Regions from separate parts of the Homo sapiens genome. Here region 2 is linked to region 1. The links come from fine-mapping of genetic effects on gene expression. A gene starts in region 1. The other region holds a variant in brackets. All regions are shown on one strand. Distances are between the middles of the regions.

Evidence for each region.
Region 2: its variant is fine-mapped to the expression of HIRA in whole blood (TOPMed, PIP above 0.99).

The regions. Positions count from the first base shown.
Region 1 is chr22:19,430,659-19,433,564 of GRCh38, forward strand. It overlaps HIRA (histone cell cycle regulator), which reads right to left and starts at 1,075. Exons shown (of 25, transcript NM_003325.4): 1 at 782-1,075. The coding sequence starts at 818. It overlaps MRPL40 (mitochondrial ribosomal protein L40), which reads left to right and starts at 1,887. Exons shown (of 4, transcript NM_003776.4): 1 at 1,887-1,949; 2 at 2,607-2,690. The coding sequence starts at 1,897. RefSeq lists an enhancer at 1-677 and silencers at 962-1,361, 1,652-1,961.
Region 2 is chr22:19,315,951-19,318,856 of GRCh38, forward strand. All of the region lies in intron 1 of LOC105372859 (a long non-coding RNA gene), which reads left to right. Among named protein-coding and RNA genes, the nearest start is that of CLTCL1, 26 kb to the left of the region's middle. The variant C/T (reference allele first, on the strand shown) is at 1,728.

The sequences.
Region 1 (2,906 bases):
TTTTTCATCTACCCGGGGAGCAAACACCAACTCCTGCAGCAGTTCTGCCAACAAGGCAGAACTATGACGAAACTGATTACCACTAGCCTCTCTGTATCAGAGTCAAGATATGGGGTGGATGAGTCCGTTCCCCAAGGGTGTGCTTTGGAGCCACTGCCACAGAGCTAAGAAGCCCCTCTGCTAGAACACACCTGTGCCCTATCTGCCCAACCCTAGTTCACCCTGATGTCCCAGCTCAGCATTAATCGTGGATCCTTCGCGGGGGCCCGGGGCCCCCAAACCCTCCTATTTAGGGACCACAATTCCCCAACTGGGGGCACTGTCCCCAGATCCAGAGGGGCAGTAACAGTCCCTCTTGCAGATTTCGGATCTTCATCCTGCCACTGAAAGGCCACAAGGGGGATTTCATCCCGGTTTCACCTTCAGGACCGTCTGAGCACTTCTCGGGCGATGCAGACCAGTGGAAGGCACTGGCTGGCACCAAGGCCCGCTCCTGGGAGCCAGGCCGCGGCCCCTCCAAGGACCACAGGTGGGCAGCGGAAGACTCAGAGCAAGAGCCAGGGGCGAAGATGGCCCTCGCTGCGGTCAACCCGGAGCACGTGCTGGGGCTCACCAGCCTCTCCGCGCTGAGGACAAAGTCCGCTCCCGCCGGCTTCTTGGCTTGGGCACCGGGTACCGGGCGTCAGGGGCGAGACAGGCAGGACTTGCGCGCGCCCCGACTCGACTCCAGACCCCGACCCGACTCCGGGCTCGGCCTCCCGCGACCCCTGCGCGCACTCACCATTGTGGTTGACCCAGGTCGGCTTCAGGAGCTTCATTGTTCGGCCGCCGCCGCCGCCGGGCTGAGGCGAGCGCCGGGTCCCTCAGCGCGCCCGGGCCATGGAGCCACCGCCGCCGCTTCCTCCCGCGCCACCCGCCCTCCGGCCGCCGCCCGCCCCGCGCCCTCAGGGCCGCCGCGCCATCGCCGGCCCGCGCCCCCCTCCGCCGCCACAGCCGCCACCCGCGCTCGGCCGCCGCCGCCGCCACCACAGCCGCATCCCCTGCGCCGCTCCTCCTCAGGCGGCTCCCGGGCAACGCCGGAAGTCACGGCGCGCACCTGCCAAATCGCCCCGGCGGGAAACCGCTCCCCACGCGGACTGGGCCGCCCCGGCTCCTCCGCTGGCAGGGGCTTCGGGTCGGGCCCGGGCGCGGGCGCCCCAGAAAGGGCGGTTCGCCTGGACGGCGGACAGCGAGCGGGGCCTGCAGTTGCAACCCGGGCCGCCCGCAGAGGCAGGCGGGGCCCAGGTGGCGTGGACCGCCCGTCACCAGCTCTGCCTCGCCAGTCTGAGTCCGACTTATTAACTAGCTTCCGTCATTCATCAACACGCGCTATTGGGCATCTTGCGAGCGCCGGGCTCCGCGCCGGCGCCGGAATGCGATCCGGGCTTCGGACTCGAACGAATGCGGGGGACGAGCCAACCCTGGTGGGGGAGGCTGGGGCGGACGCGTTTATTAGAAGATCGGGGCCGTTTGCCTAGACATGAACATTTGGACTCGGAGGAGCAGAGGGACGCCCCCTCGGCCGCTCCGGCTGCACTGCGGAGCCGAGGCCCGCGCGAGGGCGCAGACCGACCAACCGGCTAGGGCCTGACTGGCTAGACTGTGCCCGCTGCAGAGGCGCGCTCCCAGCACAGGGCGGGGACGGAAGGGAGGACCCCGAGCCGCGTGAAACGCAAGGCCCTCGTGTGTGCGCAGCTGACACCCTAGGCGGGGCTGCGTCGGGGGCGGGGACAGGCGCGTCCCAGCCCACGCAGCCGGAACGCCTGAGCGCTGGGCGCCTGGTCTGCCGGACCTCAGCAGGGGGCACCGCGGGCCGGACTGTGGAGGGGCGCACGCCCGGAAGCGGCGAGGGTAGCCATGACGGCCTCCGTGCTGCGAAGTATCTCGCTAGCCCTGCGCCCGACTAGCGGGTGAGTGCGGACGCTGGCCGGATAGCGGAGTGCCCAGGGCGCGTGCGGGGTCTTCGCGACTGTCCGCCAGGACTCGCCTGTGCTCCCTGCTCGCCTCCCAGTCCACGAATATCTCAGGGATGAGCCATCTGGTCGTGACTCTTATGCATGAAAATCTGAGCACCCTGGCGAGCAGCGGTCCTGCTTAAGTCCTCTGTGGTCTGAACGAAAGATTTTGAAAAACCTTCCACGTTGACCTTGCTGTCATATCAAGTAGTTAGAAGTGCCCCGGGTTTGGGAGCATTGCAATTTTTTATTTTCCTGTGAAGTGGGAGAGAATCAGATATTTATTTATTTATTTGAGACAGAGTCTCGCTCTGTCGCCCAGGCTGGAGTGCAGTGGCGCGATTTCGGCTCACTGCAACCTCTGCCTCCCGGGTTCAAGCAGTTCTGCCCCGGCCTCCCGAGTAGCTCGGATTACAGGCGCCCAACACCACGCCCGGCTAATTTTTGTATTTTTAGTAGAGACGGGGTTTCACCATGTTGGCCAGGCTGGTCTTGAACTCCTGACCTCGCGATCCACCCGCCTCGGCCTCCCAAAGTGCTGGGATTACAGACGTGAGCAACCGCGCCTAGCCTGGAGAAGCAGATATTTATACATACTCTTGTATCTTTCAGGCTTCTGGGAACTTGGCAGACGCAGCTTAGAGAGACTCACCAGCGAGCGTCATTGTTGTCTTTCTGGGAACTCATTCCCATGAGGTAAAACTCAATCGAGGGCCTGACCTCTGGGGGTAAAGGTGTCAGTCTATGTGTAGAGAACAAAGCAAGAATGCTGGATGTGTGGTTTGCAAAATTAACAGCCTACAAAGTTTCTCAGTTAAATTTAGGCCGATGCTTTTCTGTTTTTCCAACATTTTCCAAACCATAGATTGTTGTTTGTAATTTTTAAAATTTGAGCAGTTTCTCAAGAAGTAA
Region 2 (2,906 bases), 110 kb before region 1:
GACAAACTTATACTAAAATTTGTTTGGAAACATACAAGCCCTAGAATAGCTAAAAAGTTTTGAAACAGTTCTGAGGTGGGAATTAAAGAAAGAAAGAAAAATAAAATTAAAAAGAGAAAAATATGTTCAAAAAAACAAGCTTTCTGTATTAGGCTGGCTCATCCCAAAGTCAGTAACAGGCAAAGCCCAGACCCAGGCAAAGTCTCGATAACATTATCTAAGAAGCCAGGGCTCAAAGGAATGTGCTCTGGAGACTCTCCCAGCACTCCCTCCACATAAGGAGAAGAAAAACAAATTTTCCTTATTTTCCTTTCCCCTATGGTATGAGTACATTTATGACTTTATAGATTCCCGTTTTCTTTTCTTTTGTTTTCTTTTTCTTTTTTTTTGAGATGAAGTCTCGCTCTGTCACCCAGGCTGGAGTGCAGTGGTGCAATCTCAGCTCACTGCAAGCTCCGCCTCCTGAGTTCACGCCATTCTCCTGCCTCAGCCTCCTGACTAGCTGGGACTATAGGCGCCCGCCACCATGCCTGGCTAATTTTTTGTATTTTTAGTAGAGACGGGGTTTCACCTTGTTAGCCAGGATGGTCTCGATCTCGTGACCTTGTGATCCACCTGCCTCAGCCTCCCAAGGTGCTGGGATTACAGGCGTGAGCCACTGCGCCTGGCCAGATTCCTGTTTTCTGTAACTAGTAACCTCAAGTATTCTGTTTTTTATCCGAGCAGCACAGCAAAGGTCATGAGACATGCCTGAGCAGGCATAATCTAACTGTCATAGTTTGATTAACTGCCTTTGTTCTGCTTCTATACACTTGCTTTCACACCACTACACTTCGCATCACTGTAACCTTGTTTCAAACTAGCCAACCCCTTTTCAGAAGTGTGTATAAAAGTCAAGTTCTGTCTTTGTTCTAGGCCCGGTCTTTGGATGTTAATCCACTAGGCCAGAGTGCACTCAATAACATCCCCCTGTTCTACCTATTGGTCTCTCCAGTCTCCTGATTCCCACAACAGTTCCACTGGATCTTTCACTGTCTTTGTAGTTTTACCTTTTATAGAATGTCACTTAGGTGGGGCGTGGTGGCTCATGCCTGTAATTACAGCATTTTGGGAGGCTGAGGCGGGTGGATCATTTGAGGTCAGGAGTTCGAGACCATCCTGGCCAACACGGTGAAACCCCGTCTCTACTAAAAATACAAAAATTAGCCAGGTGTGGTGGTATGCATCTGTAATCCCAGCTATTCAGGAGGCTGAGGCAGGAGAATTGCTTGAGCCTGGGAGGTGGAGGTTGCGATAAGCAGAGATCATGCCACTGCACTCCAGTCTGGGTGACAGAGTGAGACCCTGTCTCAAAAAAAAAAAACAAAAAACAACAAATTGTCACTTAGTTGGAATCATACAGTATGTAGCCTTTTCAAATTGGCTTCTTTCACTTAGCAATATCCATCTAAGGTCTTCCATGTCTTTTCATGGCTTGGTAGCTCATTTCTTTTCTTTTCTTTTTTATTTTTCTTTGAGATGGAGTCTCGGTCTGTCGCCCAGGCTGGAGTGTAGTGGCACGATCTCAGCTCACTGCAACCTCAACCTCCTGGGTTCAGGCAATTCTCTTACCTCAGCCTCGCAAGTAGCTGGGATTACAGGCACGCACCACCACACCCAGCTGATTTTTGTATTTTTAGTAGAGAAGGGGTTTCACCATGTTGGCCAGGCTGGTCTTGAATTCCTGA[C/T]CTCAGGTGATCTGCCTGTCTTGACCTCCCACAGTGCTGGGATTACAGGCATGAGCCACCGTGCCCGGCCTGAGCCACTGCCCCCAGCCGGCTCATTTCTTATCATTGAATAATATTCCAATGTATGAATGTGTCAGTTTGTTCATTCACCAATTGAGGGGATATCTTGATTTCTTCCAGTTTTTGCAGTTTTGAATAAAGCTGCTATAAACATTCATGTGTAGGTTTTTATGTGTATATAAGTTTTCAACTAATTTTGGTATATACCTAGGAGTGAAATTGCTGGGCCATATGGTTAGGCTATGTTTAGCTTGGAAGGCACTACTAGATCATCTTCCAAAGTGGCTGTATTCTCAAGAGCAATGAATGAGAATTCCTGTTTTTCTATGTCCACATCCTTGTCAGCATTTGATACTGTCAGGTTTTTGGATTTTAGCCTATCTAATAGGTGTATAGTGGTTTCTCATTGTTGTTTTTGTTATTTATTTATTTATGTATTTATTTTAGAGATGGGTTCTTACTCTCTTGCCCAGGCTGGAGTACAGTGGTATGATCATGGCTCACTGCAGCCTCAAACTGCTGGGTTCAAGAGGTCCTCCTGTTTCTGCCTCCTAAGTAGCTGGACTACAGGCATATGCCACCATGCCCAGCTAATTCTCATTGTGTTCTGAATTTGTAATTCCCTAATGACATATGATGTAGAGCGTCTTTTCATATGGTTATAGCCATATGTATATCTTCTTTGGTGAGCTCCGTTCAGATATTTTGTCCATTTTTAAACTGGAATGCTTATTTTCTTATTTTTGCATTTTGGGAGTTATTCGTATATATTGGATACAAATCCTTTATCAGAAAAGTTATTTGCAAATATTTTCTCCAAGTCTGTGGGTTTTCATTCTCTTAGCAATGATGTTCTCAGAGCAGCAGTTAAAAATTTCTGTCTAGATTCTTTTTTTTATGTTTGCATGTGTAAAATGCAAAACTTCCTGAGTAGAAGGGACTACAGGTGCATTTATTAGAGCAGTATTTATTGAAAAGACTAATATTTTTCTATTGAATTGCCTTTGTTCCTTCATCAAAGATCAGTTGATTTCATTTGTTTGGGTTTATTTATGGGTTCTCTACTCCGTTCCTTTACCAATGTCACACTGTCTTGATTACTGTAGCTTCATAGTAAGT